2 linked regions of the Homo sapiens genome follow. The protein of the gene in region 1 interacts with the protein of each later gene in a pairwise test. Each region holds a gene or a part of one and is shown in the gene's direction. Other genes may lie near its edges.

What was found.
Region 2: the proteins of NAT2 (region 1) and RAD51 interact in binary tests that used the Homo sapiens proteins (3 or more experiments, as listed by UniProt).

What each region holds. Positions count from the first base shown.
Region 1 is NC_000008.11:18,397,746-18,401,568, forward strand, and holds the end of NAT2 (arylamine N-acetyltransferase 2), read left to right. Parts: intron 1-2,252; 5' UTR 2,253-2,258; coding exon 2,259-3,131; 3' UTR 3,132-3,473; downstream 3,474-3,823. UniProt on the Homo sapiens protein: Catalyzes the N- or O-acetylation of various arylamine and heterocyclic amine substrates. Participates in the detoxification of a plethora of hydrazine and arylamine drugs, and is able to bioactivate several known carcinogens.
Region 2 is NC_000015.10:40,704,865-40,708,687, forward strand, and holds part of RAD51 (DNA repair protein RAD51 homolog 1), read left to right. Parts: intron 1-1,312; coding exon 1,313-1,430; intron 1,431-3,823.

The sequences.
Region 1 (3,823 bases):
AAACTTCTCAGATATCTCAGAAGTTCAACTTCTGGTGTATCCTGCTGCTTTTAGCCTTTTCTTCATTTGAGAATAGCTGAGATCTTAACTCTCTCTTTCAACTTTTTGTTGGCTCTGGCAAATTTTTTTTTTCTTCAGGTCTAAATCTGTTGCTATAGCCTGATGCTGAAGTGTTTCGTCTTAAAGCTTCAAAAAAAGCAATGTTTTCTTCCATTATCACTTAATTCTGTGCTGTTGGCTTTTCCTCCTATGAGTAAGGGCCAGAAACCCTCTGAAGGATTACTGAAAAATCAACTCACAAAAGATAGATCAGTTGAAGAGAAGGCATGCAGATTTGTTTGGAGTGTGTATGCTGGAGTCTTCAGAATAAAGACCCCAACACACAGGGGAAATTGTCCTTTTTATGCTTAGGTGCGACAAGGTATGGGCACATATAAAAATATGATTGAGGCAAAAGGCATAACCTAATGCCAATGGACTGGGGAAACCCAGCAAGACCTGTCTGTCTAGATTCCTCTTGACCTCTCTGAGCATGTACTCCTTCCTTCTGGGTATAGGGATCTTATGACCTACAATCCAACAAGGTAAGTTGGATAATTTCTTTATGGCTAATTCATACACAGAAAGGGAGAGGGCAAATTAGAGTAATATTTTTAGACTTTGTGGCTGGTTTTGAGAAAAAGGAGTTCTGATTTCTAGGTTCTGCCTTGGGGAAAGAGATTCTAGTTTGTTTGGCCAGCTTTGAGGGATATTGGGACTGAGAGATAGGAGGCCAGGAGAAGGCCAAAGAAAAACTGACTTCTGAAGCTTTTACCTTGGGGCACTGTCTTCTGAGCTACAACGTGTATTTAAAGTCTTCGACGAAACCATGAAACTTCCTATGCTGGTACTAAGAGTCACGTATTCCCCTGCTCAAGTTACTAGTAAATTCTTTGTTAGTATTGTTCTTCAGTGGGTTCTCCCCAGTAGCTTTGGGTTGATATCCTCCCAGCTTCTAGCCTTGCAGCATAATACATGTGCTTAGATTTCAGCAAAAATGCCTCAATAGAGTTTCAATGATCTACTTAGGTCACATGCCACCCATCAGCCAAGCTTTGGTCCTAGAGCTGTTGTGTTTGAAGTGGTCCTACATAGTTTATGTGACAGCCCATAGAGCTCAATATGGGCAGCCTATTGTCCACACAGTAGCTAGACAGATCACTTTGATTAGGCGAACACTGTTCCGCTTATAACCCTTCTCTCATCCTGTCTCACTTTGATTTCTCATCTCGTTTAGAATAGAAGCCAAAATATAAGCATTGGCTCCAAGGCCACTGTTAGTTGTCAGATATCATCTCAATCCATTCCCCTTCTCACTGACTGTGCTCCAGTCACCCTGGCTTCCTGGATGTTTCCTCAACACTTGGGACAGGTTCCAGCTAAGGATCCTGGTACTTTCTGTTCCACTGCATGGAACAATCCTCCTCACACATATCCACAGAACTTATTCTCTAGCATCCTTAAAGTCTTAGTGAGCCTTTCTTTAACCACCTTGTTTGAATTCAGTGCTCTCCCTGTGCACCCACTAACCCCTCTTTTTGTTTTCACCAGGCACTTACCACAATCTAACAGACTGCATGTTTTATCCATTTATTCAGTTTCCTATTTGTGTCCCTTCAACTCCCATTAAAATATAATATTTTTGAGGGCAAGCAAGTACTAGAACAATAGGAAACACATCAAGAGTATTCTGTAAACTATTTCTTGAATCAATCAGTGAATGAATGAATTAATCAATATATTTTTTGAGTGAGGAGCTTTGTGTTAGGTACAGCTAAATGGGAAATCAAGTGGGTCATGTACCATGAATACCATATACTCTACTGTATAATTCTCCTGCTTATATCAGAAACTGTTTATAAGCCTATTATAATTGATACCAATTGGAATCTCTTTTTTACTCATCACCAAGAACACCACAAACAAGTTGTTTACCATTTGGCTCCTTATTTAATCTGGATTTCCAACTCCTCATGCTTAAAAGACGGAAGATACAATAATACTTTCCTTACAGGGTTCTGAGACTACTAAGAGAACTTATGCATGTAAAAGGGATTCATGCAGTAGAAATACTAACAAAAGAATTACTATGACAGATACTTATAACCATTGTGTTTTTACGTATTTAAAATACGTTATACCTATAATTAGTCACACGAGGAAATCAAATGCTAAAGTATGATATGTTTTTATGTTTTGTTTTTCTTGCTTAGGGGATCATGGACATTGAAGCATATTTTGAAAGAATTGGCTATAAGAACTCTAGGAACAAATTGGACTTGGAAACATTAACTGACATTCTTGAGCACCAGATCCGGGCTGTTCCCTTTGAGAACCTTAACATGCATTGTGGGCAAGCCATGGAGTTGGGCTTAGAGGCTATTTTTGATCACATTGTAAGAAGAAACCGGGGTGGGTGGTGTCTCCAGGTCAATCAACTTCTGTACTGGGCTCTGACCACAATCGGTTTTCAGACCACAATGTTAGGAGGGTATTTTTACATCCCTCCAGTTAACAAATACAGCACTGGCATGGTTCACCTTCTCCTGCAGGTGACCATTGACGGCAGGAATTACATTGTCGATGCTGGGTCTGGAAGCTCCTCCCAGATGTGGCAGCCTCTAGAATTAATTTCTGGGAAGGATCAGCCTCAGGTGCCTTGCATTTTCTGCTTGACAGAAGAGAGAGGAATCTGGTACCTGGACCAAATCAGGAGAGAGCAGTATATTACAAACAAAGAATTTCTTAATTCTCATCTCCTGCCAAAGAAGAAACACCAAAAAATATACTTATTTACGCTTGAACCTCGAACAATTGAAGATTTTGAGTCTATGAATACATACCTGCAGACGTCTCCAACATCTTCATTTATAACCACATCATTTTGTTCCTTGCAGACCCCAGAAGGGGTTTACTGTTTGGTGGGCTTCATCCTCACCTATAGAAAATTCAATTATAAAGACAATACAGATCTGGTCGAGTTTAAAACTCTCACTGAGGAAGAGGTTGAAGAAGTGCTGAGAAATATATTTAAGATTTCCTTGGGGAGAAATCTCGTGCCCAAACCTGGTGATGGATCCCTTACTATTTAGAATAAGGAACAAAATAAACCCTTGTGTATGTATCACCCAACTCACTAATTATCAACTTATGTGCTATCAGATATCCTCTCTACCCTCACGTTATTTTGAAGAAAATCCTAAACATCAAATACTTTCATCCATAAAAATGTCAGCATTTATTAAAAAACAATAACTTTTTAAAGAAACATAAGGACACATTTTCAAATTAATAAAAATAAAGGCATTTTAAGGATGGCCTGTGATTATCTTGGGAAGCAGAGTGATTCATGCTAGAAAACATTTAATATTGATTTATTGTTGAATTCATAGTAAATTTTTACTGGTAAATGAATAAAGAATATTGTGGAAAAACTCACTGTCTCTAAAGTTTATGAAAACATTGTTGGCTAATATATTGTGAATCAAAGTTTTTCTTTAGACGACTTAGGATATTATGGGGCTAGGCATTTTTTCCTCAATAGAGTCTTCCTCTCATCCTCTTTCTTGTCTCCTAGTTACATTCTTTTACTTCCATCCATACTTTGCCACAAGAGAAGGAACATGAGCTTTATTGTGTAGATCTGATTTGAAATCCTGTGGACACGGGGTGAATTACTTTTAAAATCTGTGGCTCTGATTCCTCAAAGATAAAATGCAAATAATATTTATATAATTCACTGCCAGATATAAATTTTCAAAACTATTTGTTATATGGATGAATA
Region 2 (3,823 bases), on another chromosome or scaffold:
TCACCATGTTGGTCAGGCTGGTCTTGAACTCCTGACCTTGTGATCTGCCCACCTCAGCCTCCCAAAGTTCTGAGATTACAGAGGTGAGCCACCACACCCAGCCACCCTGCTAATTTTAAAACATTTTTAGAGCCAGGGTGCTGCTTTGTTACTCAGGCTGGTCTCAAACTCCTGGCTTCCAGCAGTCCTCCCACCTCAGCCTCCCAAAGTGCTGGGATTACAGGTGTGATTCACCACACCCAGCCTTCTTTTCTAATATAGCTGTTTATAGCTATGAATTTCTCTCTAAGCACTGCTTTTCTTGGAGCCCATACGTTTTGGTATATCTTCGTTTTCATTCATTGCAAAAACATTTTCTGATTTCCCTTGTCATTTCTTCTTTGACTTGTTGCTTATTTAGGAGTGTGTTGCTTTATTTTTGCATATTTGTGAATGCACTTACTTTTCAATTTTAGAATCAACCCATAGTGCTATTACAGAACACTTATCTGTAATTACAAAATAGAATGTGAATGTTCTCAGCCAGACAATATGAAAGAAAAGGTACAGCTGATAGAGGTGGGGAAGTAGCCATGGAGAGAGAAAAGATTGAAGGGCAAATGTCCTCATTTTTACAAAGTAGGAAGTTAAGGGATACAGTCTGCGGTTGATGGAGCAGGAAATGAAGGTGTACTGTATTGTCATTTTTGTCATAAATTGGGCAAAACACATATGTACGGATCTCTAATAGTTTTTTGTTTTGTTTTGTTTTGTTTTTTGAGACAGAGTCTCGCTCTGTCCCCCAGGCTGGAGTACAGTGGCGCGATCTCGGCTCACTGCAAGCTCCGCCTCCCGGGTTCACGCCTTTCTCCTGCCTCAGCCTACCAAGTAGCTGGGACTTCAGGCACCCGCCACCACGCCCGACTAATTTTTTGTATTTTTTTAGTAGAGATGGGGTTTCACCATGTTAGCCAGGATGGTCTCGATCTCCTGACGTTGTGATCCGCCTGCCTTGGCCTTCCAAAGTGCTGGGATTACAGGCGTGAGCCATCGCACCCGGCCGGATCTATAATAGTTTTTAAAACTATATTAATATATTAACTTGAATTGGCAATTTAAAAATTGATCTTCATGGAATCTCTGAATTAGATTATCCTTTTTTATGACTTTCTAAAGAGAAATCATCCTGGTAATTTTATTTGATATTTTCTCTTCCCATTGCACACCTTGTTTTACTAATATTTCTTTTTTCTTTATATATATTTTTTTGCCATCAAGATCACTGTGGTAAGGAATATTATTTTGTTGATTTAATATTTCTTATTTTTCCCAGGCTGAGGCAGCTAAATTAGTTCCAATGGGTTTCACCACTGCAACTGAATTCCACCAAAGGCGGTCAGAGATCATACAGATTACTACTGGCTCCAAAGAGCTTGACAAACTACTTCAAGGTGTAGTAATCCTTTATCCTGTGTTGTGAACTCTAGTTAGGAAAGCTTCCAGGTTATAAAACAAAACTGAAATATTTGTGTAGCATTTCCTTGTTAGATAATGATAAAGAGATAGAGGAAGGCCAGGTGCAGTGGCTTATGCCTGTAATCTCAGCACTTTGGGAGGCTGAGGTGGGCAGATCACCTGAGGCTGGGAGTTCGAGACCAGCCCAGCCAACATGGAGAAACCTATTAAAAATACAAAATTAGTTGGGCATGGTGGCACATGCCTGTAATCCCTGTAGGTGCACATGCCTACTCGGGAGGCAGAGGCAGGAGAATCACTTGAACCCGGAAGACGGAGGTTGCTGTGAGCCAAGATTGTGCCACTGCACTCCAGCCTGGGTGACGAGCAAAACTCTGTCTCAAAAACAAAGAGAGATAAAGGAAGTATCCACATTGAAGAGGTAAGACTGCTGCAAGGTAGGACCTTATTTATAAAATACTAAACTTATCTGCAAATTAAATAATTTAGTCTCCATTTAATATTGTGTTAAGAGAGTAAGCTCCTTTTGCTTAAGGAGGTAACTGTAATTATAACCTACTCTACCACAGGGTTGAAAACCTGATGACTGGTTAAAACATTCCATGTTTGAATACTACTCATTGTGTACACACTAATCTTCAGGACTTCAGGGAAAACTATAAAGCTTTTGACCTTATTATTTATTTTTCGAGACAGGGTCTCACTCTGTCACCCAGGCTGGAGTGCAGTGGCATGGTCTCAGCTCACTGCAACCTCTGCTTCCTGGGCTCAAGTGATCTTCTAGCCTCAGTCTCCCCAAGCTAGGACTATGATCATTTACCACCTGGCTAATTTTTTTTTTTTTTTTTTTTTTTTTTGAGTCGGGGCATCACTCATTATGTTGCCCAGGCTGGTCTCAAAATCCTGAGCTCAAGCCATCCTCCTGCCTCAGCCTCCCAAAGTGCTGGGATTATAGGCTTGAGCCACCTTGCCTGGCCCAATGTCAGTTTTCTTTCCCTTTTTTTTGAGACAGAGTCTCACTCTGTTACCCAGGCTGGAGTGCAGTGGCATAATCTCAGCTCACTGCAACCTCCGCCTCCTGGGTTCAAGTGATTCTCCTGCCTCAGCCTCCCAAGTAGCTGGGACTACAGGCAAGTGCCACCATGCCCAGCTAATTTTTGTATTTTTAGTAGAGATGAGGTTTCACCACGTTGGCTAGGTTGGTCTCGAACTCCTGACCTCAGATGATCTACCCGCCTCAGCCTCCCAAAGTGCTGGGCTTACAGGCGTGAGCCATCATGCCTGGCCCCCAATGTCAGTTTTCTAATATCAGTGCTATACTATCATTATGCAAGAGGTTAACACTGCAGAAGGCTAGGTGCATAGAAATTTCGTATGTTTTTTTTTGTTGTTGTTGGTTTGTTTGTTTGTTTTTTAAAGACAGAGTCTTGCTCTGTTGCCCAGGCTAGAATGCAGTGGCACAATCTCGGCTCATTGCAACCACTGACTCCCAGGTTTGAGCAGTTCTCCTGCCTCAGTCTCCTGAGTAGCTGCAATGACAGGCACCCGCCACCGTGCCTGGCTAATTTTTGTATTTTTAGTAGAGACGGGATTTCACCGTCTTGGCCAGGCTGGTCTCAAAGTCCTGACCTCCTGATCCATCCACCTCGGCCTCCCAAAGTGCTGGGATTACAGGCATGAGCCACTGTGCCCAGCTTTTTTTTTTTTTTTTTTTTTTGAGATGGGGTCTTGCTATGTCACCCCGGCTGGAGTGCAGTGGCATGATCTTGGCTCACTGCCACTTCCGCCCCCAGGTTCAAGCTATTCTTCTGCCTCCGCCTCCCGAGTAGCTGGGACTACAGGCATGCACCACCATGCCCAGCTAATTTTTGTATTTTTAGTAGAGACAGGGTTTCACCATATTGTGCCCAGCTTTTTTTTTTTTTTTTTTGAGGAGTCTCACTTTGTCACCCAGGCTGGAGTGCAGTGGCGTGATCTCGGCTTGCTGCAGCCTCCGCCTCCCAGGTTCAAGTGATTCTCCTGCTTCAGCCTGCTAGTAGCTGGGATTACAGGTGCCCATCACCAGTTCCAGCTAAGTTTTGTATTTTTAGTAGACATGAGGTTTCACCATGTTGGCCAGGCTGGTCTCGAGCTCCTGACCTCAGGTGATCAGCCCGCCTCGGCCCCCTAAAGTGCTGGGATTACAGGTGTGAGCCACCGCACCTGGCCTTATTTGCAGCTATCTATAAATCTAATTATTTCAAAATACTTTTGGTTTATTTGTTTGTTTGTTTGTTTGTTTTGAAACAGGGTCTCACTGTGTCACCCAGGCTAGAGTGCACTGGCACGATTTTGGCTCACTGCAACTTCTGCCTCCCAGGCTCAAGTG